Linked DNA regions of Homo sapiens. The protein of the gene in region 4 purifies or fractionates together with the protein of the main gene of each other region. This does not show direct contact. Each region holds a gene or a part of one and is shown on either strand. Other genes may lie near its edges. The genes, in order: CAPN15, SIDT2, SLC12A6 and ENTREP1.

Region 1 (7,681 bases), on a different chromosome or scaffold from region 4:
GCCTGCGGGGAGTGGTCCCATCTGATCAAGAGTCCCCCAAAAACACAAGCCTTGAAAACTGGACCACCTGGTCCAGCATCCAGGAAGCGGACTGTGCATCTGCGGCTCTCGCTCTCCCGCCCCCCGCGCGAGATGCCCGCCTGCCTGTCACTCTCAGATGCAGATGGAGATGGAGAAACCAAGGCCCAGGGAAGCTGAGGACCCAGGTCTGCCAGTCCCCTCAGCCCAGCTGCTGCTTGCGGGCTGGTGACCAGAAGAGGACCAGGCGTGGCCTACAGTGAGGAGTCCTTGAACCCTCAGTGCAGGTGCAGCAGAATGGTTCCAGGTCACAGGGCCCAAGAACCCTGATTGCTTCATGAGTTAGAACTGAGGAGTGACAGGCCGGGCGCGGTGGCTCACGCCTGTAATCCCAGCACTTTGGGAGGCCCAGGCAGGCGGATCACAAGGTCAGGAAATCGAGACCATCCTGGCTAACATGGTGAAACCACGTCTCTACTAAAAATACAAAAAAATTAGCCGGGCGTGGTGGCCGGCACCTGTAGTCCCAGCTACTTGGGAGGCTGAGGCATGAGAATGGCGTGAACCTGGGAGGTGGAGCTTGCAGTGAGCAGCGATCACGCCACCGCACTCCAGCCTGGGCAACAGAGCGAGACTCCGTCTCAAAAAAAAAAAGAACTGAGGAGTGACATGGGCGGTGTGGGTGTGTCCAAGGCCAAGTTCCTCCTCCCAGGAAAAAGACCTGCTCTCCCACCTACCCAGGGGTCTGTGTGGTGCCAGTAAGACCCATCTCTGCCTAGAGGGAGAAGCTGGAGGTGGGGAGGGGAACTCACTCCACGCTGCCAGGCCAGAGCCAGGGAGGGGAAGGGGAGCAGCTTCCTCCTCCTGATACCCCACTGTGGTCTAGGAGCACCTCAGTTTCCACGCTAGATTTTAAACATGGGGCTGTCCACAGTCCAGCTGGCCCCACCTCGATGACCCACTGGGGTCTCCAGCCCAAAGGAGTTTGAGACAGGAGGACACAGGATGAAATGGAAACATTCCCGGAAGGGCTGCCAGAGACCTTGTGGGTGAGCGAGAGCAGGGTGGGGTGGCCGGTGTGCATGCCTGGTGGACGTGCCCAGAAGCCTGCACCCCCCAGGAGGCCCGAACGTGTCCCTCTGGAGTGTCGCCCCCACCCCCAGCTGTGCAGTGGGATGGTCACTGGGCCTGCCAAGTCTCCCAAGGCAGATCCTGTCCCCAGCTGGCTCCTGACATTGAATGTTCTGAGTCTTGGTCAGTTCTGCCCGATGGAAGAGCACCAAGGAGTCTTGCCCGGCAGGATAGAGAGGAGCGGCTCTGCCCCTGCCCTGGAACAAGAGCCCCGGACGTGGGTGCAGAGCCCCTCACATGAGGACCGCCCCATCCTGCCTCTGCTGAAGGGCAGGTATAGGAAGGCTGGACCCCCTCAGCGGCCCCCCGGATGTGGGTGCAGAGCCCCTCACATGAGGACCGCCCCAGCCTGCCTCTGCTGAAGGGCAGGTATAGGAAGTCTGGACCCCCTCAGCGGCCCCCCGGATGGCACCCTGGCCCCTCTACCTGCTGGCAGTCCAGTAACCTGGAGGTGGTGGCCCAGAGAAAGGCGGGAACTTCTCCCAGGGCCCCGTCCATTGTTATTTTCACCTGTCCGGCCGCCCATTCTTTTTTTGAGACGGACTCAGTCACCCAGGCTGGAGCGCCATGTGCCATCCCAGCTCACTGCAGCCTCAACCTCCCGGGCTCAAGTGATGCTCCTGCCTCTGCCTCCCAAGTAGCAGGGACCACAAGCACACACCACCACACCCTAATTATCTTTTAAGTGGAGACAGGTTTCGCTTTGTGTGTTGCCCAGGCTGGTGGTCCGTCGTCTTTTTGACCCAGGCCTGTGTGGCTCACAAAGCAGGCAATTGCAGGGTCATCCCATCAAATCTGAGCATGGCACCAGAGCACACAAGTCAGCCACCTGCGGGCCTTGGCACCCTCGTGCTCCACGCCAGGGTCCCTGTGTGCTCAAGTCTGGGCTCCATGATGGCACTGGGGTTTGTTCTGTTTGCTGCTTTGTGCGCGTGAGGCTTTCTCTGGGTGCCTGAACAGATGCCTCCAGTTTCAGTTCTTTCTGTTTGGCCCTCCCCATCCTCTTCTCCTCCAGGGGGGATTCATGGCTCGCCTCTTGGCTCTTCTGGGCACTTGGCGAGCTTCTGCGCACTTGCGTTAGCTGCTCAGGTCTGTCTGGATGTGAGAGTCGTGTCCTCAGGCCAGGAAGCACTGGCACGGAGCAGGGCTCGGTCAATGGTCTGGATAATCCAGAGTCACTTACCTTCTGCTGTGCAGTCATTTACAATTCACGCCTGTGTGCCTGATGTCTTGTGACTCAGAATCTTCAAGACAATCACAGGCTGGCCTCACGGAGGCACGAGTGACTCATTTCTCTCATCGCACCCATTCCCTCCAGCACTCTCCTTGTGCGGGGAAACCTCAGTCACCTTGAAGACGCCTCCTGAGGCCCTCTTCTGGGTGAATGGGCTTCCTCCTTCACCATGACAGGCTACTGGGGAGAGCTGGGGTGCTCCCACCCTCTCCTCACCCCAAATGGGCCTGGCCTAGCAAAACTGGCCAGAACTGGCCACTCTGCAGTGAGCTGGCAGGGCCCTCAGCATCAGATCAACAGGTTCAACTGCAGCTGCCTCTCTGGTGGGGAGGTTATAAGGCCTGCTGGCTAGACCACTGGCCCCTGGCCAGGGAGCCACCTAGGCAGTGCCAGGGAAGGACTGGGAAGGGAAGAGAACCTGCGGTCCCTGAGTGAGGCCTTGACTGCACCCTCTCCTGTGGTTCGAAAGCCACACTTGGCCAGTATCCTGCCATGCAGGTGAGGAAGCTGGGGAGGACAGGGTCCCAGAGCCTTGTCCAAGTTGCAGAGAGGAGAGCCAGCTCTCACTCTGCAGCCCTCTGTGCCCCCAGACCCCCACTGGCCCCCGGGGACACATTTCCTGCCCTTGGGATGCTTTGGCATGGATATAGTCTGGGAACAAACGGCACATCCAGCTGCCCTGCCTGTCTCCACAGAGGGGGCAGCAGACCTAGGGGGAGGTGTCCAAGACACAGGAATGAAGTGTCCTTACCAAAAGCTTCCGAGGACAGAAATAAACCCCTCCTGCCAGCTTCTGCACTGACTGCAGCTAGAAGCCGAGCTCCACGTGGGACACAGGTGTCCCTGCTGCGGCATCTCAGCATGACGGAGGCCCATCCTTGGCTTTCCTGGAGCATGAATATCCTCTGAGGAGCACTGGCCCTGGCCTTGTAGGTCTTGCTGAGACTGGCTTAGATTTTCTGGCCCAGGAGCAATCGTCACCCAACCTCCCACTTGTAAATCTCGCCACAGAATCGGCCCACAACCGTCTCTCCGGAATCTCGGCGGACCAGCCCTGCTCCTGTGTCTCCCTCTCCCGCAGAGCCACTGCCTTCTCAGGCTCCTCAAGTGCACCTAAGAGCGGGAGTCTGGCTGCCCTCAGCACTCGCGTCCCGCCCTGCAGCCTGATAAGCTTGACGCCAAGGCATTCTCCCGAGAGCCGGCCCAGCAGCTGCTGGCAGGAGAGTGGCCTCAGGGCAGCGGGAAGGGGACCTCCGGGGAGAGAATGAGGCCTGCGCAAGGGTCCTGGAAGGACCCAGGAGTCGCCCCGGCTTCCCTCCCCCAGGCCCTGGTTGGGCGCCGTGGGCCGCGTCCCAGTTGAGCCCGGCGTGGCCGTTTAATGGCGTCCCTCCGCGACCGAGGACGAAGGGGCCTAGAGAGGCTGTGCCCAAGCGACGCTGCGAGGCCAGGCCGCGTCTCGGGCCAGGGCGGTCCCCTTGCCACCGCCGCTCTTGGCCGCCAGGACCAAGCACAGCACGCAGCGTCGCGAAAGGGGCGGTCCTGGAAGGCGCGAAGGGGTCTCCGGGTCTCGCGAACACGGCGGGGTCGGGGCGGAGTCGTGGGTCCTCGGTCGAGCGGCCGCCCAGAGCCCCGCGGGACACGGACGGCCCCAGCCCGGCTCCCCGCGAGCCCCACGCGTCTGTGACGCCGCTGATGCGCAGACGCCGCGGCTGCAGGCCCCGCCCCTCCGTGCCCCTCGCAAGGCCCTCTGGGAGTTGTAGTTCCAGCTCCTCCTCGGGCCGCCCCACTCCCTGATAATCCTGGAGCGCGGCGCCTCCCGGGGACCGAGGCCTCGGGCCCGGCCGTCTCCAGCAGCGAGGGCAGGAGAAGTGGCCCGGGCGGTCGGCGGACTGGGAGGGCGCCACCCGAGGACTACAACTCCCGGCCTGCCTCGCGCAGGCACCGCCCCGAGCTTCCGCCCCGTCGGCGCCGCGCAGCCCTGTGGGAGCCGTAGTCCGGGCGCGCGATTCACAGCGCCGCGTGCGCCCCGGGCGCGCCGTAGCCGCGGGGCCCGGGCCGGGCGCTACGCTACGAAGGCAGCGTAAGGCGGGCGCCGGACGCGGGCAGGGGCCGGGGCCGGAGCCGGGTCGGGGCGCCCCGCGGCTGAGGAGCGGGAGGCCGTCCGGGCAGCGCGGCCGGCGGCGAGAGGGGCCCCGCCGCTCTCCGGAGGCAGAAGTTGTGGATCGGCCGGCGGGGGCGAGCGGGCCCGGGGGCCGGGGCCGCGCTGCCCGGGCCGCGAGGACGAGGCGGCGCCGCCGGGCTGTGGAGGTGAGTCCCGTCGGCCGGGCCCGGCCGGGCGCCCAGCCGGGGACCCCGGGCGGGGAGCGCGGGCCCGGAGGGCGGCGGGGAGCGCGGGCTCGGCGGGGCGCAGGAGGCCTCGGGGGCCGGGCGCGCCGGGCTCCGAGCCAGGGCAGGGACGGCAGGGCCCCCGGAGTGGGGTCAGCCCGCCGCCCGCTGGCGCCTCCAGGCTGGTGGGGGCCAGGGCTGGGCGATGCTTCGCAGAGGAACCCAGAGGAAGGCGGGAAGTCGGCAGGGACCTGGGCCATGTGGGTCACTTGAGGCCAGCCCCGGGGGCCGCGCACACCGGAGGCGGCCTCGGCCCTGCCTGCCCTTGAGTGCCCTTATATCCGGGCCCATCGTGCGGTCCTGGCCGCCTTAGGGATGTTGTGCTTGGTGCGGGCATCACTCCCCTCACTTGGGGAACGGCCTGGGGGCGGCCACCTGGCGTGGAGGGGCTGGCGGGAGCCCCGTCTGTGCCAGCCATGCCAGTGTTCTCTTCCGTGTTCCTCTGGGGCTGCTGCGGCACCAGCTGGGAAGTTGCAAATCTGCTGTCCTCCCGCTGGCTGCAGAAGGGGCCCCTCTAGTCCTGACCGGGGGAACTCTTGTGTGGTCAGCTGGCCCTGGCCGGGCGAGCTCTCGGGGCCCCCTTACTGCTCTGGAGTTTGTTACCGGACTGCAGGTAACAAGACCCGGAAAGCAATGGTGAGGCCCAGAACCTGAGGCCAGGCCTGGGTGTGTGGGGCCAGTGGGGAAGACTGGGACTCCGTTGGGTGCTGAAGAGTTGTGTGCTTCTCCTTCGGGAAACCCGGATCTCTTCCTCTGCCCAGGTCTGAGGGGTGCGGAAACGTGAGTCACAGTTCAGTGTGGGAGTGCCCCGTAATTGCCTCCGCGTTTCCAGAGTCTGGGGCTGGGCAAGGATATAGGGGTGATTCTCCCTTCCGGTTCTGAGTGACTTCTCAACTGTGAAGTGGGGCAAGAGAAATTGTTTTTCTGGCCTGTCTGGGGGAGGCAGGTCCTGCAGGAAACCAGCTTGGCCTGGCCTTGGGTTGGGTGTGCCTTGCCTCCTCCGAGGTCCTTCTGCTTGCGGGAGGAGCACCCCTCTTTTTCCTGCTTCTGTCTGTGTCTGAGGCTCTCCAGAGCTCCTTGATTGGCAGAGGAGCCAGTGACCTCTGAGTCCCCAGGAGAGCCCGAGGCTCAGTAACTGCATAACTGCGCAGGGCCTCTTGTCTGGGCCTCCACAGACCGTGGTCTCTGAGAGCAGGAAGTGGCTGGTCCCCTGTAATGCTGCATCTGTGTGACAGCCTCAAGCCCTGCTGGCTCTCTCTCCGGGCACCCCTCACTTGCTTCTTGCCCTGGCCTTGGGCAGCACTCCGGTAACCCCAGTGCCACAGGTGAGGAACCGAAGCTGGAGACAGCTGTTCATGGCAGGGGAGGGGCCGAGGGAGGCTGAGCGCCTGGTCTCTCCCTCCTGCTGGTTCCACCAGTTCACACGAGGCAATTGGAGGGAAGGATTCTGCTGCCCGGAAAATCCTCCGGAACCACAGGTGTTGTTCATGGGCCTGAGCCGCTCAGTGAAGAACTCGGCCGTTGGTGGCCGAGTTGCCCCTGGTCCAGCCCTCTGGCCCGCGGTGTGATGCCTCTACTCATGGCAACAGGCGTGGACAGGTGCTGAGAAGGAGGACGACATCATTAAACAAAACAGCTTGGGGTCTTTGAAAAACAGTGACAGAAACCCAGGAAGGCTGGTGACTTGTCAGGTCTGTGTCTGTCCTGGGTGGCCACTCGGCCCTGGACCGTGAGGCTGAAATGACAGGAGACACGGAGGGTGGGCTTGGGTGGTTTCCTCATAAGACACAGAAGAAGGAGGCCCCCAACCCGGGGGCTGCCTCGTGCGCTTTGCTCTCCTGTTTTCCTGCTCTGTCCCTCTGGTCCTGCCCTCTGACCCCTGGCACAGCAGGAGTGCCCAGAAGCCCAGTGGGACTTGTTCTCTGCCTAAAGCCCTTCCGCATCCCTCGTACCCACTCGGTGTGGATGTGGGTTTTCTCACCACCAGGCTGTGCCTCAGCTGTGTGGAGCCACTGGCCTCTCATGCCCCACGCTGGAGAGAACGCTGAGGTCTGTGCGGTTCTCATGTGACCCTGTAGCTGGTCCCTGGCTCCCCACTGTGGGATCTGCCTGCAGCACTTACACTTGGGACCGCCCTGTCTCCCTGCTGGATGTGGCGCCGAGGGCAGGGTCCGTTTCTGTTTCTTGGTAGGCCTAGTGTCTAGCGCTATGCAGCCGTGCGCAGAGCAGGCGGTCAGTGAGCACCTGGGGTTGGCCCTCACCACAGGCAGTTCTGAATACCTGGGTTCTGGCAGCCCAGGGGGACTCCTGCGTGCTCCAGGAAAGTAGCACAGCAGCCCCTGTGGCGTGGACACGGCCACACCTGAGCTCGGCCTGTTTCTGAGTCTGAGAGAACAGGCTTGCTGGCCTGTGATCTTTGCATGTGTGTCTCGCTGCAGGGAGGCTGTGGGTTGGGGCTGGACCTAGACCCGTTCAGCCACACCCTGTCACTATGTGGGTCACACACAGCTGGGTGGAGACCTCCCGGTGCGTGGCCCAGGGAGGTGTCTGGGCGTGGAGTCTGTGGACAGCCACATTGTACCACTAGGACAGGGGCTGCTGCTGGGCCCACAGGGTGCACGGAATGGGGTCTGTGGGAGGATGGGGGCATCCTAGCCCAGGGCAGGGACCCCGTGGGCCCCCCAAGATGAGCTGCGTCAGGCTGTTGCTTTGCACACTCTGAGGGGCCTGCCTGAGTGCTGCATGGGAAGCCAGCAGTGTGGCCGCCCTCCCCAGAACTCATCCAGGGCACCAGGGTGGACCCATGAGTCCCGTCGGGTCATGGGCATCAGCCTCGCCATCCTGGCCTCCAGATACAACGATTTGTCAGATTCCCTGAGGTCAAAGGGAAGCTTCAAGGGTTGCCATCCCCGC
Region 2 (7,781 bases), on a different chromosome or scaffold from region 4:
TTGAGAGGCATTTCCATGTCGTTCTGCAGACAGAGGGCGTGCGTGTGTCTGTGAACGTCCTGAACAAGCAGAAGGGGGCGCCGTTGCTGTTTGTGGTCCGCCAGAAGGAGGCTGTGGTGTCCTTCCAGGTGCCCCTAATCCTGCGAGGGATGTGAGTAGGATCTGGGCATCAGGGAAGCGGGGCAGCCTAGGCCAGTCCTTGGCTGGAGCCTCAACCAGGAGCCCCCCCATTTCTCCTCCCCTTTCCCTGGGCTGGGAGGCTGGTCAACAGCACAAGGGCCGAGTCCCACCAGCCGGGAGCTTGTGCACCTCGCAGGGAGGTGGTGGAGACCAGACGGGGCGAGGTGGGGCCTCGCTCCTCTGGAGGGGCAGGCCGGCTGGGACAGTGCTCACATCCTATCTCCCTGCTTCGGGCCATAGGTTTCAGCGCAAGTACCTCTACCAAAAAGTGGAACGAACCCTGTGTCAGCCCCCCACCAAGAATGAGTCGGAGATTCAGTTCTTCTACGTGGATGTGTCCACCCTGTCACCAGTCAACACCACATACCAGCTCCGGGTCAGCCGCATGGACGATTTTGTGCTCAGGTCTGCAGGGTAGAGTGAGGGGACCACGGGGGCTGGTTCTTCCCCAGGCTCCGGGGGTGACTGGTGGGGGCTCTTCTCTGCCCTGCAGGACTGGGGAGCAGTTCAGCTTCAATACCACAGCAGCACAGCCCCAGGTAACATCTCCCTGTTGATTGCTCGAGAGGAGAAATGGGGGAGCTTGAATATGAGAATGGGAGTGGCCAGCGGTCTTTGCTTGGCCTTTTGAATTGGCTGTTTTCTCCATGGAGGGCTCTCTGGAAACAGGAGCTCTGGCCCTGACATGGTGAGGGACAGACAGCATGGGACTGTACAGAGACATGGAGTCTGGTTGCCTCTCTGGCATTCTGCTGAGTGCCCTGCTGAGGTTGAAGGGAATGGTATACAGAGAAAGGGGCTGCTGTGATCAAGGCCTGTCTCCTCGGAGAGCCTCCACTGCCCACCCCTCAGAGGATTCTGGGTCCTCGCTTATAGGGGACTATTCCCTTCTAGAGGGGCCAAGAGAGCATCCTCATGAGATGGGGCTCTCCCTTCCTTCCTGCACCCTCAGTACTTCAAGTATGAGTTCCCTGAAGGCGTGGACTCGGTAATTGTCAAGGTGACCTCCAACAAGGCCTTCCCCTGCTCAGTCATCTCCATTCAGGATGTGCTGGTGAGTTGCCTGCCCTTTTGCTCTTCCCCAGCAGGCAGCAGGGCTGCTAAAGAGAGGGGCAGGCCAGGTTCCCATCCATCTGCCTCTCCCGCCCCTCTGCAGTGTCCTGTCTATGACCTGGACAACAACGTAGCCTTCATCGGCATGTACCAGACGATGACCAAGAAGGCGGCCATCACCGTACAGGTAGGAAATGCATGTGGCCACGTGGGAGGTGTGGCTGGGCGATAAGCTGTGTAGCTTTCCAAACTTGAGCTCTTCTTCCTCTGCCCATTCCTATCCTACACACGACTGAGTCTTTGGCCTTCCAGTCCCTGTGACTTTGAGTCCCCTGATATATATGAGAGTTGTACCATAATCCCAGTTGCTCTTGGGGATGGGAAAGAGTAGAGTACCCCCTTCTGGCTGTCATACCTACTTCATTCATTGTAACAATAAGAGGGCTGAGCGCGGTGGCTCATTCCTGTAATCCCAGCACTTTGGGAGGCCGAGGTGGGCGGATCACCTGAGATCAGGAGTTCAAGACCAGCCTGGCCAACAGGCTGAAACCCCGTCTCTACTAAAAATACGAAAAATTAGCTGGGCATGGTGGCGCATGCCTGTAATCCCAGCTACTCGGGAGGCTGAGTCAGGAGAATCACTTGAACCTGGGAGACAGAGGTTGCAGTGAGCCGAGATCACACCACTGCACTCCAGCCTGGGCAAAAGGAGTGAAACTCTGTCTCAAGAAAAAAAAGGTCAGGCGCAGTGGCTCACGCCTGTAATCCCACACTTCGGGAGGCTGAGGCGGGCAGATCACCTGAGATCAGGCGTTCAAGACCAGCCTGGCCAACATGGTGAAACCCCATCTCTACTAAAAACATAAAAATTAGCTGGGCGTGGTGATGGACGCCTGTAATCCCAGCTACTTGGGAGGTTGAAGCAGGAGAATTGTTTGAACCCGGGAGGCGGAGGTTGCAGTGAGCTGAGATCATGCCATGGCACTCCAGCCTAGGCAATAGGAGTGAAACTCCGTCTCAAAAAAAAAAAAAATCTTGTGAGGATTAAGTAAAATATATCTATGAAGAATTTAGCATAATGTCTGGCCCCAGAACAAGTATTTAGAAAAGAATGATGATGATGATGATGAAGAAGATATTTATCATCATCATCCTGCAGCGCAAAGACTTCCCCAGCAACAGCTTTTATGTGGTGGTGGTGGTGAAGACCGAAGACCAAGCCTGCGGGGGCTCCCTGCCTTTCTACCCCTTCGCAGAAGGTACATTTTGTGCCCTGGGCCTGGCTAGGGATGGGGAGGTCTTGGTCACTTTCTGGGAGCAAGAAGAGCCTGCGTGGCTGATTGGTGGACCTGATAGGACATGGGTTTTTGGCTCCAGTCTCTCAAAGGCCTGATCCCACTGACTCTAGCCAAGCTCCAGGCAACTAGTTTACCACTTTGACATTTTACTTCCAGATGAACCGGTCGATCAAGGGCACCGCCAGAAAACCCTGTCAGTGCTGGTGTCTCAAGCAGTCACGTGTGAGTGCTGCAGGTGGCTGAGAGGGGATGGACAAGCCTCTCTGGCTCCTGCTTTCAGACCTGGGATATAGGGTGTGCCCTGAAGTGGGTGATGAGGATGCAGATATGCTGGTGGGGTAGGAACGGGGAGTGTTCTTGGCAGGCTTCTAGATGGGGAGGGCCGGGAGGTGAGTTCCAGTGTGATGTGGTACAGAGAGTTCATGACTAAAGATGGAAGAACTGAGGTCCAGTTCACTTTCTGCCACTTATCAGCAGTGTAACCTGATTGTAAGAAAGAGCTTTAATTTTGCTTTGTTAGCATAGTTATAATCTTATTTATTCTGAAGGATGTTTCTTAATCTCATATTCAGAAACATACCCTAATTTGTCATTGAAACACTGCTATAAGATTGAGTCTCAGTTTCCCTGTCTCTATAACAGAGGGAGTAAAATTTGTCCAGTTAATCTCACTAAGTTATGAGGGCTAGCACAAAATTAGCAGATAAAATTAGCAGGAAAGTACCAGGCCCCTACTCAGTGCTCAATAAATATTTACTGAATGATTAAATGGGGCCCTAAGGGACTGTGATAGGAGGGGAAAGAAGGTGCCTCTCTTTCTTTTTTTGAGATGGACTCTTGCTCTGTCACCCAGGCTGTAATGCAGTGGCAAGATCTCTACTCACTGCAATCTCCGCCTCCCGGGTTCAAATGATTCTCCTGCCTCAGCCTCCTGAGTTGCTGGGATTACAGGCACCTGCCGCCATGCCCAGCTAATTTTTGTATTTTTAGTAGAGACGGGGGTTTCACCATGTTGGCCAGGCTGGTCTTGAACTCTTGACCTCAGGTGATCCGCCCACCTTGGCCTCCCAGAGTGTGGGATTACAGGCATGAGCCACCGTGCCCAGCCAGAGGGTGCCTCTCTCTCTCTCTCTTTTTTTTTTTTTTTTCCGAGATGGAGTCTTGCTCTGTTGCCCAGGCTGGAGTGCAGTGGCGCAATCTCGGCTTACTGCAAGCTCCACCTCCCAGGTTCACGCCATTCTCCTGCCTCAGCCTACCGAGTAGCTGGGACTACAGGTGCCCGCCACCACGCCCGGCTAATTTTTTGTATTTTTAGTAGAGAAGGAGTTTCACCGTGTTAGCCAGGATGGTCTCAATCTCCTGACCTCGTGATCCACCTGCCCCGGCTCCCAAAGTGCTGAGATTACAGGCGTGAGCCACCGCGCCCGGCCAGGGTGCCTCTCTTACATGGATTATTTATTCAGCAAATATTTATGGAGCACCTCCTATATGCCAGGTGGTATGCTAAGGCAGCAGTCCTTGGTGGGGGCGGGGTCCTGTCTAGAGGAACAGGAGGCAGTTAAGAGCTGTGGTGAGCAAGGAACAGGTCACTGTGGAAATACAGGACAGAGAAAGCTTCCTAGAGGACACAGTCCCTGAGCTGTGGTTTGAGGGTTAAGTCAAGGTGGAATTTTTGAGAGGCCAGGCACGGTGGCTCACGCCTATAATCCCAGAACTTTGGGAGGCTGAGGCAGGGAAATTGCTTGAAGCCAGGAATTCAAGACCAGCCTGAGCAACATAGCGAGACCCAATCTCTATAAAAAATAAAAAAATGAGCCAGGCGTGGTGGCACACATCTGTAGTCCCAGCTACTCAGGAGGCTGAGGTGGAAGGATGGAGCCTAGGAGTTGGAGGCTGCAGTGAGCTATGATCGTGCCACTGCACTCCAGCATGGGTAACAGAGTGAGCCCGTCTCAAAAAAAAAAAAAAAAAAAAAAAAGTAGAAGAGAAAGTTCTAGCCCAGGGAGCAACATGAGCAAAAATAGGAGTGTGTCAGAGTTTGGTGTATTAGAGGAACTGCCAGTTGTTCATACTGGCTAGGCAGGGCCTTACATTTGAGGGGAGAAGGGTGAGAGATTGAGCTGGGTGGAGGAGGACATGAAGGCCTTTGGGTGCCATGATGGGAGGTGGTGGAAGGTTTTGACCTGTCCACCTTCCTGTTTCCTCCTTGAAGCTGAGGCATACGTCAGTGGGATGCTCTTTTGCCTGGGTATATTTCTCTCCTTTTACCTGCTGACCGTCCTCCTGGCCTGCTGGGAGAACTGGAGGTAAAGTGGAACTGCTGGGCCTCCCCTGGTCTGGGTGGTTTGGGCAGGTGTGTGGGGCAGATCACCTGGCAGGATCTGAGCCAGCCTAGGGTAATCTACACCATCCATAGCAGATGATGGTGGGGCTGTTAGAGTCTGTGGCCCATGAGCCTCTCTAGAAACCATCCCCTCCCCTCAACCTTCTTCCCAAGCAGGGAGATCCCATGTTGCTCCCCAGCCTGTGAGGAACCCTGGGACAAAGGGTGGAGGACAGGGTCATAGCGATGAGAGTGGAGCAGAGAGGTAGAAGGAAAGTCAGCCCCATACAGAGTGATCCTTGTCCTGTCCCATCTGGGTGGCCTGTGGGTTCTGTCCATGCAGGCAGAAGAAGAAGACCCTGCTGGTGGCCATTGACCGAGCCTGCCCAGAAAGCGGTACCTCCAGGGGGCCTGGGTGGGGCGGGCACAGTGTGCTTTGTGTTTTGGGGGGTGGTGGTGGATGGTTCCCTAGGGGGTTGGAGGAGGAAGGGCTGGGGGTTTCTGGATGTTCAGATGGGGGTAACACTCCACAGATGGGAATGAGGCTGGGATATGATGTCCATGCATCCCTAACATGCACACCTCAGAGGCTGAGGTGTTGCTTGGTTTATTCCATGTCTAGCGATGGTGTCTGCCTGCCTTGGGCAGTGTGGCCCACGGTCTCTGGGATTATTAACCTTTCCTTCTCTCTCTCTTCCACCCCTCCCTCTCTTTCTGTCCTCCCTCCTGCGTGGGACCTTCTCTCTTAGCTTCTCTCCTTGGTAAGCTCCAGGTGCTGTGGGCAGAGGAGCTGGAGTCCAGAGTAGGGGAGGGAGGGTGCAGCACAGGGCTGTCTGGAGGGCTCGTGGGCGGGCCAGTGTTGTCTTTGTTGCTGGTAACTTAGATGTGCCTGTTCTTGAACTTTCTCTCTCCTTAGGGAAGACAAAGGGTGGTGCTGTTTCCATGGGAGAGGCAGGCAGGGGGCTGGGGCGGGTGGTGGTGGCAGCAGTGGGGTGTGTTTGCCTGGATAGGTGCTGCTTCTCGTCTGCTGGCATGGCCTCCCTGTGGCTGTCTTCTCTGGACCTTTCTTTGTTCTTCTCCCTGGCTCTAGGCCTCTCTCTTCGTCCAGTGCTAACAGACCTTGACTTCTCATTGCAGGTCACCCTCGAGTCCTGGCTGATTCTTTTCCTGGCAGTTCCCCTTATGAGGGTTACAACTATGGCTCCTTTGGTACGTGTCAAAGCCAGCACCGTGCTTGCTGGGGACATGACCTTGTCTCCTTAGGCCACCACCTCCGAGGCGGTAAAGTGGGAGCCACCTCCTCCAGCCCCCACACCCTCTGCAGATGCTCAGAGCCCCTTTCCCTGCGGCCTCTCCTTCCTGCCTCACCACTGATCGTTCCCCACAGAGAATGTTTCTGGATCTACCGATGGTCTGGTTGACAGCGCTGGCACTGGGGACCTCTCTTACGGTTACCAGGGTGAGTGGGCCAGGCTGGGAGGGGCGGTGTGGTGCAGGACGGTGTTGTCTGGGTAAAATGTCACGGTGGGCGGTTGCCTCTTCTGCCAGATGCTGGAACCTGGGAAGGGCCTGCTGTCTTCCTAACCCCTCTCTTCCCTCATCCCCTCCTCCTTGGCCCCAGTTCCCTGGTAACTTTCCCTTTCCTTTGAAGGGCACGACCAGTTCAAGCGGCGCCTCCCCTCTGGCCAGATGCGGCAGCTGTGCATTGCCATGGGTAGACCTGGGGTGGGGGTAGGGCTGTTTTGCCAATCAGTGCCTGCCGGCTCCGGTTGACTGCCGGCTGTGGGGCCAGAAAGATTCTATGTGCATGGCTTCCCCATGTAATTCCAGTAATTGCCCGCTCTTGTGTCTTCTGAGATAGCAGCAGAGCACAGGCTCCTTTGGCTGGCGGGCTGGCGCCTCCGCTCTCTCCAGGCTGGACAATCTAGTTTATCGTCTGCGTTGCCAGCGCCCTCACTCCCTGGCCTGCTTGGGGAGGGCTCACAGGCATGGGGGTCACATTCTGGCCTCTGGATAAAGGAGAAATGCTCTTTCTGCACCCCAGGCCCACTGGGTCTTTAACCCAGTGGCAGCCAAGGCAGTGTCTTCTCAGAACCCACAGGGCTGGGCACCCTTGAATCAGCATGACTTGCCGAGTTCAATCCTGTTGTTTGTGTCTGCTGCCTGGGGTCTGCCTTGTGTCCTGGCCTGGGAAGCCCTAGCCCATGAGGGGTGCCAGGAACAGAGCAAAGCTAGAGCGGCCCCTGTGTGGTGGCCTCTTCTAGAGTCTACCATCATCCCCCAGGACTTAGGAGCACCTGATGTCTCCTCCCAGCTCCTGAGCCCACTTCCACCCCAACTCTGAGGCCCAGCCCACAATTTGCCTCTTCCCTACTGCCTAATAATTGTTACAATTGCCTCAGATGGGCGAGGGCCACTGTGGGTTTTGTGTCCACCGGTGCAACCCCTCCCTCCCTGCCCTTTCCAGGCCGCTCCTTTGAACCTGTAGGTACTCGGCCCCGAGTGGACTCCATGAGCTCTGTGGAGGAGGATGACTACGACACATTGACCGACATCGATTCCGACAAGAATGTCATTCGCACCAAGGTCTGACCCGTGGGCCTGGCCTGGTCAGGCGTTTCCTGAGAAAGGGACATTCTGCGTTCCCGCCCCAGCATGTTCCCACTGACGTGGCATTTAGGGAAGCAGAAGGAAGGGGCTCAGCTGGGGCAGGGCAGATGCCGGGGAAACTAACCTGACCTCCAACCCCTTCCGGCCTGATTGGCCAAACCCTCTTGGTCTAAGCGGCCGCAGCAGTGGGATGTCCTTGAACCCTGCCCCCCTGAATTCGGCCCTGTGTGAGGGAGGCCCCTCTTGTCCACCTCTAACCTGGGGGAGGGGGCTTCTCCCAAGTAGCAGTAAGTGGGGCTGATTCCAGCTTCTCCCCA
Region 3 (7,781 bases), on a different chromosome or scaffold from region 4:
CCGATTCCGCTACTACCATTGGTAAGTCTGCTTCTTTTATTCTTTTTACTCACGTTTGGAGAGAACCCATCTTTGAACTAGAAAACTAGGAGAGTCTGGGTTCTCGATAAAATTTTTTTCTTGGTCAGCCATTTCATACTGTTTCAACTTTCAATTCTTATCTGAATCCTCATCCTCCTATCCTATTTTCCTATATCACTTTATAATAACTTATAACACCCAATACGAATAGAGCAAAAGCACTAAATAGAGATATCCAGCCTTCTATAATTTTCAGGTTAAAACAACCTTCTCTTGCATGTTTATTTTCCTGTTTGTCTCTTAGGGTTACAGAGTCAGAGGTTCTAAATTCCAATCTCAGCTCTACTATTTCCTAGCTTTGTAACCTTCAGCAAAGCACATAACCATGTAAAATTTAATTTTATTCATTTGTAAAATGGGACTAATAAATCTAAAGTGCTTATCGTAGTGCCTGATACATAGTAAAGCTCAGCTCTCAATGAACTGTTGCTGCTGCTGCTGTTGTAGTTAAGTCTCCCCAGTCCTGAAGGGGTCATCATGAAAGATTTTTGGCTACCATCCCATCTCTTTCCTCTTATAGCTCAGAGCTCATTAATTATGTCCTGTATGTACCCGTTGCTACATTCTTCTTTGCTAACTTTCTCCTTGTTCCCTTTCTGTCTTCACTTACCAATGGTGGGCAGTGATGTAACGTTTACTGGGCAAAAATTAAAATCTTCAACTGATTTTTAATGCCTCAAATCCTCTTTCTAGCTTTAATGTTAGTTAGAAGTTCTTTATGAGGCCGGGCGTGGTGGCTCATGCCTGTAATCCCAGCACTTTGGGAGGCCAAGGCAGGCGGATCACCTAGGTCAGGAGTTTGAGACCAGCCTGACCAACATGGGGAAACCCCGTCTCTACTAAAAATACAAAAGTAGCCGGGCATGGTGGCACATGCCTGTAATCCCAGCTACTCAGGAGGCTGAGGTAGGAGAATCGCTTGAACCCGGGAGTCGGAGGTTGCAGTGAGCTGAGATCCCAGGTTCACACCATTCTCCTGCCTCAGCCTCCCGAGTAGCTGGGACTACAGGCGCCCGTCACCACACCCGGCTAATTTTTTGTATTTTTAGTAAAGACAGGGTTTCACCGTGTTAGCCAGGATGGTCTCAGTCTTCTGACCTTGTGATCCATCCGCCTCAGCCTCCCAAAGTGCTGGGATTACAGCTGTGAGCCACCGCATCCGGCCCAAAAATAATTTTTCTCAGTGAGTTCTGCAGTTATGCTAATAAGTATTTATAAAATTTTTAGAAATATTTATATGAAATTTTTTAAAAAGATCCTAGAGTTATTAACATTTCTGGCTGCGTGTCCCATCCTGGCTTTGCCAAGTAAGTATTAATTGTCCTCATAACTGCAGATGACTGATAGTGTTCCGTTATTTATATGGTTTTCCAGCAGTTGGAAACATCTTCTGTTGCAAAGGACAGTTTGGGGTTTAGTGCACATCTACCGACTGTTTCATGATAAGACAACTATAGAATTGAGAATAATCATTTAGAAACTTTTGTGGCAGTTTGACATTGCTACAGCATCCAGGCATGTGATAATTTTTCGAATAATTCATTTTTATTGCATTTTACAAAAGTTCTATTTATAATAGTTTCAAAGTTTTTAAAAAATAATACCTCACCACAGATAGTTTGAGAAGCACCTTTAACATAGGCTTCTTTTTCAGCTACTTTAAAAGATACTTTTTTGTTTTTAATTTTCTAGGGCCCTTTCTTTCATGGGAATGAGTATCTGTCTGGCTCTGATGTTCATTTCTTCCTGGTATTATGCCATTGTAGCCATGGTAATAGCTGGTATGATCTACAAGTACATTGAATACCAAGGGTGAGTGTGGATTTAATCTTGATCACTGCTAAAAGTAGCAAGACTAGCTAGTTTGGTTAGAGCCAGCTCAGTGAAAATATCTTAAGGACTCAGGTAACTTCATTTTCATAACTATATTTTGTACCCCTAATTCTTTAACCATCTTAATGATGCAAGCTTTTCATCACAAGGGAGATCCATTGAGAAAGTATGAATGGATCAATGGAAAATAACAAAGGACATTTCCAAATAATAATAATTAGTACTAAACAAAGTACAACACAAATGTAAATATTTTTGCTTATCTCTTCAGTCAAGGGGTTGTCTCTGAAATGAAAAAGAAATTAGTTCTGAACAACTTAGTAACTACTAAGACTTACAGCTTTCAAAAATGAGGACGAAATAACATTCTTATTCAGAAGATCACATTGAACTTTACTTTCTCTGCATTATTTTCAAAGTAACTTAAACTCCAGGTCTGTTATAATTTTCTAATCTAAATTGCTCTTTTACATTATTGTTTTGAACAATTACATAGAAGGACTGAATGAGTGACCCCTTCAGGCTTTATTGGGAACTGTTTGTGCAGTGCAGTCTGTTGGTGCTGTTGATCTACCTACATCAGGTTCATTATGTTAGTAAAGAACATTATGTAAATCATTAATCTGAGCTTTAATCTTCTACCTTGCACATGTGTGATTTTTAGATTCAGAAAAAAACTTTATTTTTTAAAATTATACTTACTATAGTTTAAATTTGTCTCTGCTCTTTTCTTTTTCTCACAGAGCTGAGAAAGAATGGGGTGATGGTATCCGTGGGCTGTCCCTCAGTGCAGCCCGGTTTGCTTTGCTTCGATTGGAGGAAGGACCTCCACACACTAAAAACTGGAGGTAAAGAAATCAACACTAGCAGTATTTGGCACATGGTTAACACACAAAAATATGTGTTTTGTTGATTTTAGGATAAGGAAACCATATGTGGCTCAAGGAATTGGTATAATGGACCTGTTTTGAACTATTCTAAATCCTTAATTTTTTTATTCCCTTTTCTTCATGTCGTTTATGATCAAGATTTCTACAATTTATTATTCTTCCTTGAAGACTGATCAACTTGAGATAGTACTGGGAGCATTCAAAATAATGCCCTTATCCTGTCATCTCCTGTGATCTCTTCCTTCTGTCAAATTACCTGTTTCATACAGATCTCCTGAATTAAAGGGTGGAGTCTGTCATTCTGTTCCCCAAACCCAAAATGTTTTCTCCTCCCCTCCAACCCCCACCAACCTCTTCACAGGCCTCAGTTGCTTGTATTACTGAAACTAGATGAAGACTTACATGTCAAGCATCCTCGCCTCCTCACCTTTGCCTCACAGCTCAAAGCAGGAAAAGGTCTCACTATTGTGGGCTCTGTCATCGTGGGGAACTTCCTAGAGAACTACGGTGAAGCTTTAGCTGCTGAGCAGGTAAGAGTCAGGCTTTTGAGGTATTGGAACTCAGTTTACAGCTTTGTGATGTTAAGTAGTAAGACCTCAAACTTCTACTTGAATCTTGTTCCTGAGTGATCTAGGAGGTTTCTCACTTAGTGCTGACCTTTGAAAGGACACTTTTTCCCAAATAATAAGATGAGCCAAAAATAGTTATTTATTATTTCTTCCTGTTTAAAGCATTACTAAATTATAAGATTATTAAGTCTAAACCTTATGTTCAAATATACTCCAAACATTAATCTAAGCACTGAGAAAAGTCATGTAAATAAATTGATCCCTTGAACTATGGAGAGGGTTCCTCTCAATCTTGTGACAACAAGGAGTAATGACCAAATTTTCTTCCTCTTTACTAATCTACGTGGTATCATGAGCAAGATTCCTTTGCCACTTCTGGTTAGCTGTATTGAACATTAAAGTTCTACTTTAACAAGGAAGTTGTTTTCACTCTAATACTTATTATATATGATAGAACTAATCCTATTGTTTTTGAAATGCCATTGTGTTCAATGGCATTTCAAAAGTTTTACTGTGGGGGGAGGGGGGAAGGATAGCATTAGGAGATATACCTAATGTAAATGACGAGTTAATGGGTGCAGCACACCAACATGGCACATGTATACATATGTAACAAACCTGCACGTTGTGCACATGTACCCTAAAACTTAAAGTATTTAAAAAAAAAAGTTTTACTGGATTTCATTTTGGAATCCTTTGAAATCCTAAACACTAGAAATGCTGAAGAAACATTACTCCAGAATGATGGTAAAAATTAATAAAAGGTACACAGGATTGAAAATCAGGAGAGCCTAGTTCTTAGCCGCATCACTGATTTAATCTGTGCCTTTGCAAAAATCATTCCATTTTCCATACCATTATTCCCAGGGTGGAGTAAGAGTAAATGAGATGATATCTCCAAATTGGTTTGACTAAATAAAGGAAGAGTAATGCAAATACAAGTGTCATGAATAATCACCATTAAAATGTCAAAAAGCATATGGGAATGGGAGAGGCGAAAAAGAAAACATACCTGAGAAAATTCTAAAGTGAAACTGAATCATCATACTGAGTTTCTGGTAAGATGAGTCAGGGCATGACTGGGGCTGAGGCAGGAAGGAGATCGTGTTCACAATAGTGAATCACCCTGGTCAACTGAGAAAGAATGTTGAATATTCACTTTGTAGAGATCCCTGTTCCCAGTTTTTTGGTATGGTGCAAAGGAACAAAAGCAGAACAGAGGAAAAAGCAGAGAAACTACATGTAGACAACCAGCTACAGAGGCAAAAATACGTAGTAAGCAAAAAGACAAAAGATCATGAAATTCCTTTGGGATAATTTTAACTTTTTGGACTTTTCTGTAGATGATATAGTATTATGAAGACTTTGGAAAAAGGTGGGGGATATAATATGGAGAAGGAACAATGGGTTAAAATGTCCAGAGTGAACCAGTTCAGTGTTGCGGTCCTGTGTCTCTTTCAGACCATAAAGCACCTAATGGAGGCAGAGAAGGTAAAAGGATTCTGCCAGCTGGTGGTGGCCGCCAAGCTGAGAGAGGGCATTTCCCACCTCATCCAGTCATGTGGCCTTGGGGGCATGAAGCACAACACGGTGGTGATGGGCTGGCCTAATGGCTGGCGTCAAAGCGAAGATGCCCGCGCTTGGAAGACTTTTATTGGTACTAACCATTTCTCATACAAACCTAAAGGCCCAAGTCGAGGGTATATAGTTAAATCTCTGTCACCCCCAGCCTCCTAAAGTAGAGACTATGCCATTGCTGAAGCATAGTCTTATAAGGCAACCTGAAAAACTATTGGTAGTAATACCCAGATTCTACCTACCCCCTTCAGCTTCACATTATGTTCATGAATTATTTCTGTCAAGTCTTGTGCTAGGAATTATCTCCAAAATTGCCGTGTTTTCATTTGTGATTTTCCATATTGATGTTCTCACAGGAATTGCAAGAATTGTTCTTCAGCATCATAATCTCTCAAATTCACATATCCCCCCTTAGAAATGTAGTAATGGGAATATACCTAGTAACATAAACTGTGGTTCTCAGTCTGTTAGCTATTCAGATTTTTCACAATGGTTTTTGATACGTAATGAGAAATAACCTACTAAGTAAATAGGACCCCTTGCTCAAAGAAGTGTGAAAAGAGCATTTCCTTGCTTTCCTGACATGCTAGGAAGCAAGGCAAGCCTAAGGATTCTTCTCTGCTTATTCTTTTTTCTCCCTAGGCACAGTTCGAGTGACAACTGCTGCCCATCTTGCACTGCTGGTGGCTAAAAACATCTCCTTCTTTCCCAGCAATGTGGAGCAATTTTCTGAGGGCAACATTGATGTGTGGTGGATTGTGCATGATGGGGGGATGCTTATGCTACTACCATTCCTACTGAAACAGCACAAGGTATTTTATACAACTTTTTTTTTACAAAAGTCTTTCTCCCTTCTGTCCTGGTTCACAGGACAGACAAATTCTTCCTCTGATTATAATAGTGTTGGGGTTTAGAATCAGAAGAGTTGGAAGTTATTCTAGGCTTTCCCATGATCCCACTTTCAAACAAGAGAAATCATTGTCTTTGTATTTGATACCTACTTATCTCCAAGTGAAATTCAGCCAATTAATAAAGTTCCATATGAGCCCTAGGGGAAAACAACAAGTGAACACATCTTTTTTTAAAAAATACTGAAAACTTAAGGTATATGTATATGTGTGTATTGCACGCATATATGCGCTCATTCCGTGGTAAGACTAATTAAATGAGATTTAAAATAGTAAATATATAGTCTGCATGTTGTCATTGATACACTGTCTGAATAAAGTACCCTCTTAACGTATCGTGAACCATCTTTTCTTTTGCCAGTGTTTTCTTGTTATGAAATTAAGGACTCCTTAAAACTGTATTAAATGTGGTGTTTAGTCAATCTTTTGCCCTAATACAATAACATAGCAAGTAGGAAGCTAGGAACAAATAGCCTTATACTACATATAGCAAGGTTCTTCTAGACCACAATGTCTAATGTCTTAGGAAATAACCTTTTTTGCCTCCTTGCTCTAATTTTTCACATGTGTATGTCACTCTCTCAGGTGTGGCGAAAGTGCAGCATACGGATCTTCACAGTAGCCCAATTAGAAGACAACAGTATCCAAATGAAGAAGGACCTAGCCACCTTCCTATATCACTTACGCATTGAGGCGGAGGTAGAAGTGGTGGAGATGGTGAGAAAGCTGAGTTTGAGATACAAGAGGTTCATTCCCCCATTCCTCTCCCTGTCTTCCTTGAATCTTTTCTGGTTTGGGAAATTTTTCAGATCTAAATGTGGATTAATCCCCTAGTGCCAAAAAAAAAACAAAAAAAAACCCTAATTTGTTGCCCTAAGTAGAATGTATATGTGATGCATGTTTGATGTTATTTTTTGGTTTTGCTTTCTTGTTTATTACACAGCCCTTATATTTCTGCCAGATTCTCATCTGCTTAATATAGTTTTATGAAATTTTTATTCATATATTCAGCTTAAAATCACACATGGCTTTTAAAAAAAACCTAACAGTATAAAAAAGAGAGACTGGAGTTTGTATTTTGTGTTTCAAGGCAACACATGTCTTGGTTAGATTATGGAAAAGACTCTCAGGGCCTCTGAATTTTATCTACAGTCACAAAAACATTTATGTAGCTCAATGACTAAACAAAGTAAGGGTGAAGCTTAGGTTAATATAGTGATGCTGTCCCTGGTTTAATTTAGTGACTGGAAATAAAAATGTATGGTTCATCCTTCTTTCTCCTTTGTGCTTTTTGCCCCTTTTATGTGATGTCTATGGCAGCATGACAGTGATATATCAGCATATACTTACGAGCGCACTTTGATGATGGAACAAAGGTCCCAGATGCTCCGGCACATGCGGCTATCCAAAACAGAGCGAGACAGAGAGGTGAGACATTACTGCATCAATCCAATCCGTGCTCTCTAAAGTCTGTCACTGAAAGGGATGATACTGGGCTGGGCATGGTGGCTCACGCCTGTAATCCCAGCACTTTTGGAGGCCGAGGCGGGTGGATCAAGAGGTCAGGAGTTCAAGACCAGCCTGGCCAAGATGGTGAAACCCCATCTGTACTAAAGTACGAAAATTAGCCGGGCATGGTGGCACATGCCTGTAATCCCAGCTACTCAGGAGGCTGAGGCAGAGAAGTGCTTAAACCCAGGAGGCGGAGGTTGCAGTGAGCCAAGATCACGCCACTGCACTCCAGCCTGCGTGACAGAGGAAGACTCTGTCTCAAACCAAAAAAAAAAGGGATGATACTATATTGTTTTCAAGGATGACAAATTCCTTCTCACTCTGTCAGTTATTCCACTATAACCCATTACTGCTTCAAAATAACCAAAGATGAAGCATAAGAGAAAATTTGGTAGAATAACTTGTGTTGG
Region 4 (7,781 bases):
TGAGTTAAACATCAACAAAATAACCCTGTTTTTTGCTGTGATGCAGGGATCTTCATTCCAAATGTCAGAAGGATCAGAAGCTGCTGTGATCCCATTGGATCTGGGCTGCACACAAGTGACTCAAGGTAATAGATACATTGTGACATGATTCAGTAGATTAAAACATGATAAAATAGGCTGGGCAAGGTGGCTTATCTCTGTAATCCCAGCACTTTGGGAGGCCGAGGTGGGAGGATCACATGAGGCCAGGAGTTTGAGGCCAGCCTGGACAACATGGAGAGAGACCCTATTTCTACAAACGGAAAAAAAAAATGATAAAATAATGATCCTGTCTGGTATTGTGTTAGAGGGCAGGTATTCTTGGAGCAAATAGTTCAAGCTACACCTTTTTCTCCAGATACAAAAATACCATCAACTATTAGGGCTTATAAATGGGAGAAAATATGTGAACTGAAAAAAGATATCCTTGGAATTTTTTATGAACCAGACTATTCTCAGGAACCATGAAATAGGTTACAGAGTTTGATTGATATTCCTGTGTTTTCTGATCTATGATTTTCTTCCTCCTATTAATTAAAATTAGCTAGACTTTTGTCAGGGGAAAAAAAGTTTCCTCTATTGCAAGGTGATTTGTGGTAAGATTGTGCTGTGTCATTTATAACCTAGGGCCCAGGTCATGCTGCCCGAGCAGCTAATGAATTCTGGTTTTCAGTACTGCAGTAAGTACTAGAGTCAGTTTACATTTATCCTTGTACTTTAAGGGAACATTGTTATGGCCTTCTCTCTTTGGGGAGGTTTTAAGTGGCCCAGAGGATTGTCCACCAGGACAAAATCACAATGGTGATAAATAATGGATCAACTCTTAGCAATTTTAGATGAAGGTAATTTTTCAGCAGTACTATTTGTAATGTAATACTTTGTGTTCTGTTCACCTTCCATCCTAAGTAGAATTAATTATGAAGCAGTGTTCTGTCTCCTAAGTATGTTCATAATTTTTCCATTTTTTTTTTTTTAACTTTATTTTTATTTATTTTTTCTGAGACAGAGTTTTACTCCTTTTGCTCAGGGTGGAGTGCAATGGGACGATCTCAGTTCACTGCAACCTCCATCTCCTGGGTGCAAGTGATTCTCCTGCCCCAGCCTCCCGAGTAACTGGAACTACAGGCACCGCCACCATGCCCAGCTAGTTTTTGAATTTTTAGTGGAGATGGGATTTTGTCATGTTGGCCAGGCAGGTCTTGAACTCCTGACCTCAGGTGATCCACCCACCTCAGCCTCCCAAAGTGCTGGGATTACAGGCATGAGCCACTGCACCCAGCCAATTTTTCCATTTTTAAAAACAGTTTCTCGAATTACAACTCAGGCTCACAGTTTTATTTTCATGAGCATAAATTATCCAATTCCAGCGGGGTTTTACGGATTTGTTTAGTGGCCACTTGACTCTCTCTAACTTAGCCTTCCGGGAGTTCTGCAGCCCACAGAGCAGCCACCTCACCTGTGCTGGTATTACCTTCCCCAGAACCAGGCTTATCCTGAGATGTCAGGGTGCTTTTCAGTACTGCCCCAGAATGCTTCCCTGGAGAAGATTCTAAGCACCTTTAGGAAAAAAAAACCCCTGCCATTTTGGCATGGCTCCTTTATTTTGCTCTTGGATTTAAATTTTTCTGTTTGTTTGTTTTAGGTGTGGAGGGGTGGTTTGGAAAGGCAAGTTTTCCTGTAGTCAGTGATGTAAAAACTTACTGGGCCAGCAGCCTGAGTAAATGTTATTAACTGCATTACCCTTGCCCTGGCAGGTTTAGGCTCCCAGGTGTTTCCTGCCCATTTTGAGGACTGCAGCTGGTGAGATAATTTATGTTTCGCCTCTTTTTTTTTTTTTTTTTTTTTTTTAAATCAGATGGGGACATTCCTAACATACCTGCCGAAGAAAATGCATCCACCTCAACTCCCAGTTCAACCCTGGTGCGTCCTATCAGAAGCCGGAGAGCCCTCCCACCCTTGAGGACCAGGTCGAAGAGTGACCCTGTGCTCCATCCTTCTGAGGAGAGAGGTGATGTCATTCCCCAAGCTCTTCGCAGGGCTGTGTGCTTATTTGCCTAAAGGAGCCAGGTGAAGGCAGGTGGCTCTGGCCAGCTCAGGACCCTGCAGTTTAAGTGGTCATTTGAAGGAGCTTATGAGGTCTTGGGAAAGTAAAATATTCTACGTCCATGTTAGGAATATATATCTACCATGTCTTTTAAGGATGGTAGGGTTTTTTTGTTTTTTTTTAAAGTCATTGTCATCAAAAGAATTTGGTTGTACATGATACTATGCTAGGTACTACATGAAGACAATTATGCACACCTAGTTCTGATTTCTAGATGCTGCAATCCTATAGGAATATGCATTGTCTTAAAAAAAGTCAAAAGGATTTTTGTATACTCCCTCTTTTATAATTTGTTATATTTTTACTATGTATGAGTAGATGATTGAATTATTGAAATCTGACCTTGTTTTTAGAACTTTGGATAGAATGAAGTACACGCACCCACACAATTCACCTCTCTCTCTGTGTTGTTTGTGTATAGATGTTACCTGAATAATTAAAAATTAAAATAATAACACTGACTTTTTTCTGAATATATGAATACCTGAACATCTCTAAATATCTCTTCATTGTAGAAAATTATAAAAAATAAAGAAACTAAAGGAAGAAAATTAAAATCTCCTGTAACTCCACCAGCACCAGCTTCTTCTTGTGAAGTAGTCTAGCAGAGTTGACCTCTGCTGTTCTAAAACACCTATGCAAATAAAACTTTGATAATCCTCCACCCTGCTCTCTCTAAGGTCCTGTCTTGAGCCCTTGCAGTCTCAGTTCTGGCTCTCTGACAGTGTGTGTTATTTGCCACAGCTCTGGACTGACCATGTGCGAGCCAGAGAGAACATTCCTCTTGTCTCTACAGCAGCTTCTAAGTGGAGAGGAAGTCCTGCCGCCTGGTACTGAGCGTGTCTCTGAAACACAGTGGCCAGGCAGCCTGGCTTCTGATTCCCAAGACCTGCCTTCACTGTGGGTCTCCTACACCCTACCTGGCAAGTTGAGGACTCCAGCCTCAACGGGAACTTAGCTGTTTGCACAGCTTAGGGAAATCTTTCCAGAACCCCTTCTCATTCTGCAGACCTGCGGGGGCAAGAACAGCAGCTGCTGGAGCCCTCCATTGTGGAAGGCGCCAGGTTGCCTTCAAGTGGAAGAGTGGAGACCCTGACTCTGTCCTCACACGAGTGTCTTTGGCGAGTGCTTCTGGAAGACTCTTGCTGTCTGTGACGTGCATATGGCTGCCTGAGAGGACAGTCTCGAATCCTGGTTTAGAGCTCCCCACACCTGCCTTTCTCCAGAAGAAAGGGGGTGCTCCCCTTCTTCCACCTGCTCTCTCGCCCCCTGCTTCTTGTCTTCTTTGAATTTCTAAATTGCTGCTTATCAGGCCTTCATAGACTGAAGATGCCAATGTTGTGTATGCTGAAGGCTGCTGGCTGACTTCTGGACACATAATGACCAGATCTGAGTTTTGCTTCACACACTTCACAGTGCAGAAGCATTGCTGGTCTTTACACCCTTGCTGATATAGGCAGCCATGGAAATTAGAGCCTGCAGTGGATTTCCCAGGCTCTCTGTTGACTTCCAGAATGATGTGTACTTTTTCTGCACCTAAATTTCTCTTTTGGTAATAGCTATAGATCTACCTCATATCCATGGTGTGAGCATCGATAACACAAGTCAGTACAACGTCCTTGAGGACGTTTGGGACAAAGGTATAGTCAAAGTGATCAGAGCATTACATTCATCTGACAAGTCTTGTCTCTCTTCAGCCCCTTCCTCTCTTAATTGACTACTTCATCCTCGCTCCTTGGAACATCCTTTCATTGGTCAGCCACATTTTTCCTGCTTGGCCCATCCATCCCCATCTATTTGTCATACCCCATGAAACTTAACCTCATTATGGTTTGCATTCTGGATTCTCCTCTCCACCATCTGGCTTTACCTTGGGGGTGGTGTCGTACATGACACAATGACGTGTTTCGGGCCATATCCTATTGGAACTGGACTTCAGGGAATAACCTTGTGTTGTTTTCCCTCCTTCTGCAAGATGAAAAGCAGGATGTGCATGGCTATCAGCATTTGTCAGATGCTTTCCATGTTGAGTTTTGTGGTCTGTGCTTTCAGGTACAGGCATATGTTCAAAAGGGGTTGGCCAATGGGTACATGTTGTTTGTTTCTGCCCACAGCTGCCCCAGTGCTCAGCTGTGAAGCTGCAACACAGACTGAAAGGAGACTGGATCTGGCTGCAGTGACTCTGAGGAGAGGCTTGAGATCTAGAGCTTCGCGATGCAGACCGCGGTCTTTGATAGATTACAAATCCTACATGGACACCAAGCTGCTGGTGGCGAGGTTCCTGGAGCAGTCCTCTTGTACCATGACCCCAGACATCCATGAACTTGTAGAAAACATTAAATCTGTTTTGAAATCTGATGAGGAGCACATGGAGGAAGCCATCACAAGTGCCAGTTTTCTAGAACAGGTAGTTTTATTATTAATCTCAGGCATGAATCAGATGACTCATTTTCATAGCAGCTAAAGTGGCTTCTCCGCTTTCTTGTCCAAGGCAGAGTAAGTTCATGGTCACAGTCTTCAGGGAAATTGGGTTGAGAGTTCTGGGGAGGGAGACAGAGGAAGCCGGGGAGCTTTCTTTCAAGTGTGGTAACTTTCCCACATCATTCTTGGCTCAAGGGAAGAGAACCCAGTTTTTCTGGGATGTGGAAGCATGTCTGGGAAAATTAAAGAGTGCATCCTAGGAATAAAAGCGGAGGATGTGGACAGTGTGGAGTGCATTCAACATTTGATTTCCTGAATTGAAGGTTTCCTTTGATAGGGCATGTTTTCTCAGCCCTTTGGAAATGATGACATAGGTGAATTTTAATATCAACAAGATTCTAAGAGGCTGTTCACATTCCCATGAAATGTTTGGCAAGATAAATAAGCCAACAGGTCCTAAGGGAATAAGCACCTTTTCTTCTTGTAGATTAAAAAGTACAAGGCAATCCCCGAAACTGAAGCCACTTGGGGAAAAGATAGAATTGGGCATGAACATAATCCAGTTGGGTCTCAGGTTTCTCCTCTTTAAAGTAAATGGTTGGACTAGGTAGTCTCTCTACCTTTATTTTTGAATGAATGGAGTTTCCTTCTGGTAAGAGCCTTCTCTCCACCTCTTTTAAGAGCCATTCCCTTTTAGGTGTTGGCTTCATTGCTGCAGGTAGTGGGGTGGATGTTGTAGACAGCACCCCACAATGGCGTATGGATGTTTTGTGGCTCTGTGTCTTTGGGCATTAAATGGCTAACAAATACTTCCTCAACTGAAGTGGGCTAATTTCTCAGGGTAATTACCAACTTCAGGATGTAGGTAAATTTTCAATTCAAATTGAGTAAATACCCTCTCACTGTCCCTTCCGTTCCCCCTTTCTACCTGCTGGCCTCTTCTTACAGAAGCCAGAAGCCAAACTCTCTCCCAGTCCCTCAGGGGATTCAGCGGGGAGGAATGATCTGATTACTTGCATGAAGAGGTACATGAACCACAGACCCTCTTGGGTTTGCACTCTGAAAGAGTGATCAGTTGACGGTTCCGGGTGAGGCTCCAGTTACTAACCTATGTAGGGAAAACATTTTACATCCTGGTGTCCCTTAGCTACTCCAGATGTCATTGTCTGTCACCTTCCCTCTGTCCGGCCCCAATAGCCCAATAATCAGGAGTCACTTCTGGAAGGCTGCCAAGCTCTGATGAGCTAAGAGCTGGAGCATTCACCAGGTAGTGGGCCTGGACCTTCTGCAAAGTCTTGCTCCCTGAGAAATAGCTCTGGGGAAGAAGAACAAGCACTTATACAGTTCACTAGATGCTATCATCACAAATGTTTGCTAGATCTTTGTGCCCCAGGCAGGTTAAAACTTCAGGTGCTGAGATTGTTGTGATAGATTTTGGGCCATCTCCTGGGCCTTCCAGGACTGGAACCTAGAGGTGAGCTTTCACAATTCTATACCTTTTCCCTGGTAGAAGGAGGTAAGAACACCAGAAGGAGGTAAGGACAGCAGAAGGAGACCAGTTATTTCTGACTCTAGCTGGCTTCGCATCTTGGAGTTTTTAGATCCATTTTGATTTTCACTGATATCAAAACCACTTGTCCTAACTTACTATGTAGCACAGTCAACTTCTTTGAATGTTGAACTTTTATTCTTAATCGGGAGACAAGGACAGACCTTAAAGACAAATGTAATTAGTAGACTGTTAATAAAATTTAATTTTCCTTCTTTGGAGGAATAATCTTTTAATGACCTTAAAGGCTCAGAATGGTACAAATGAAACAAAAAGTCATCCAAATGATTGTGCTGTGATGTTAGGTAACAATAAAGCCCCAAGGTTTTCCGAAGCTGCTGACAGTATTATGGGTCAAAGAAACATGGCAGTGCAATTTTTAAAAAATTGACCGGACAGTTCTCTCCTCTTCAATCCCAGTTGGATGAGGAATTTTTCATATTTTTGCCATTTTTACAGAGTAAGTGATATTATTATATATTCAAAATTATGTTTGTGACACATTGCAAAATAGATCTAGCAAAAAGAATCATTCTTAAAGACTTTTTACAAATAAATTGGCCTAATTTTTATATTGTTTATTAAAGGATTATCAGATCCATTTGAAGCATCATTGGATGGTTTGGGTTGACTGTTTCTTTTTTGAAACAAGGTCTCCGTCTGTCACCCAGGCTAAAGTGCGGTGGTGTAGATATAGCTCACTGCAGCCTTGAAATCCTGGGCTCAGGTGATCCTCCTGCCTCAGCCTCTCAGGTAGCTGGGACTACAGGCACACACCACCACGCCCAGCCAAGTTTTCTTATTTTTAGTAGAGATGAGGTCTTGCGATGTTGTCCAGGCTGGTCTAGAACTCCTGGGCTCAAGTAATCCTTCTGCCTCAGCCTCCCAAGTAGCTGGGACTACAGGCATGAACCACCATGCCCAGCTAATTAATTTTTTTTTTTTTTTTTTGTAGAGATGGAGTCTCACTATGTTACTCAGGCTGGTCTCAAACTCCTGGGTTGAAGTAATCCTCCTGACTCAGCCTCCCAAAGTGCTGGGATTACAAGTGTGAGCCACTGCGCCTATACTTGGTTGACATTTTATAAACCCATCACCTGGTCCCAATCCCAGACCAGTGGTTCTTACTTGGATTCTTGTTAAAAATACAGATTCCTGAGCCTGAGTCCAGGCTAACTGTCCCCATTGCTATGGGAATTCTGTAGCAATTTGCTGAGAATTCATGTTTCTGACAATACCCGTCCCTCCCTGACCCAGTAGTAATGTTCAGATGCCAGCAAGGATCACTGACTTAGACTTCAGAGAAATTAGAGAAAAGCAATGAGAAGAATGTTAAAGCAAGAAATTGCAACGGACAAACCAGTTAAGTGTGGTTTACGGGTCTACAGCGGACATGGTAGAACATTTGGAGGATTTACAAAGAACCTCTGGAATTCCAAGTGAGTTCCACTTTGGGAAAATGCCTTTTTTTTTTCTTTTTCAAAGCAATTACACATTAAGATAGGTGGATGGACCTAGGAGGTAGGTCAAAGGGCCACATCTGGTAAAGCTTACTTAACTTCTCCCCACCCCTCTCTTTTCCCAAAGATAATGGCCCCATTGCAGCCCAGCACATCCAGGGCCCACAAGCTGCCCTCGCGGAGACAGCCTGGCCTGCTGCACCTCCAG

Evidence for each region.
Region 1: the proteins of ENTREP1 (region 4) and CAPN15 purify together in Homo sapiens (affinity purification with mass spectrometry; 3 studies listed by BioGRID and IntAct, with this or other methods). This does not show direct contact.
Region 2: the proteins of ENTREP1 (region 4) and SIDT2 purify together in Homo sapiens (affinity purification with mass spectrometry; 3 studies listed by BioGRID and IntAct, with this or other methods). This does not show direct contact.
Region 3: the proteins of ENTREP1 (region 4) and SLC12A6 purify together in Homo sapiens (affinity purification with mass spectrometry; 3 studies listed by BioGRID and IntAct, with this or other methods). This does not show direct contact.

Annotation. Positions count from the first base shown.
Region 1 is NC_000016.10:523,340-531,020, forward strand, and holds the start of CAPN15 (calpain-15), read left to right. Parts: upstream 1-4,372; 5' UTR 4,373-4,690; intron 4,691-7,681.
Region 2 is NC_000011.10:117,181,387-117,189,167, forward strand, and holds part of SIDT2 (SID1 transmembrane family member 2 precursor), read left to right. Parts: intron 1-29; coding exon 30-151; intron 152-420; coding exon 421-585; intron 586-673; coding exon 674-719; intron 720-1,132; coding exon 1,133-1,234; intron 1,235-1,336; coding exon 1,337-1,420; intron 1,421-2,392; coding exon 2,393-2,492; intron 2,493-2,687; coding exon 2,688-2,753; intron 2,754-4,743; coding exon 4,744-4,837; intron 4,838-5,197; coding exon 5,198-5,250; intron 5,251-5,991; coding exon 5,992-6,063; intron 6,064-6,241; coding exon 6,242-6,313; intron 6,314-7,321; coding exon 7,322-7,440; intron 7,441-7,781.
Region 3 is NC_000015.10:34,236,214-34,243,994, reverse strand, and holds part of SLC12A6 (solute carrier family 12 member 6), read left to right. Parts: coding exon 1-21; intron 22-53; exon of another isoform or gene 54-869; intron 870-1,773; coding exon 1,774-1,893; intron 1,894-2,657; coding exon 2,658-2,762; intron 2,763-3,165; coding exon 3,166-3,334; intron 3,335-4,834; coding exon 4,835-5,030; intron 5,031-5,593; coding exon 5,594-5,763; intron 5,764-6,444; coding exon 6,445-6,576; exon of another isoform or gene 6,577-6,605; intron 6,606-7,179; coding exon 7,180-7,287; intron 7,288-7,781.
Region 4 is NC_000009.12:69,383,901-69,391,681, forward strand, and holds part of ENTREP1 (endosomal transmembrane epsin interactor 1), read left to right. Parts: intron 1-46; coding exon 47-125; intron 126-1,894; coding exon 1,895-2,047; exon of another isoform or gene 2,048-3,783; intron 3,784-4,257; coding exon 4,258-4,550; intron 4,551-7,700; coding exon 7,701-7,781. UniProt on the Homo sapiens protein: Functions as an activator of the E3 ubiquitin protein ligase ITCH in the ubiquitination of the CXCL12-activated CXCR4 receptor. Thereby, triggers CXCR4 endocytosis and desensitization, negatively regulating the CXCL12/CXCR4 signaling pathway.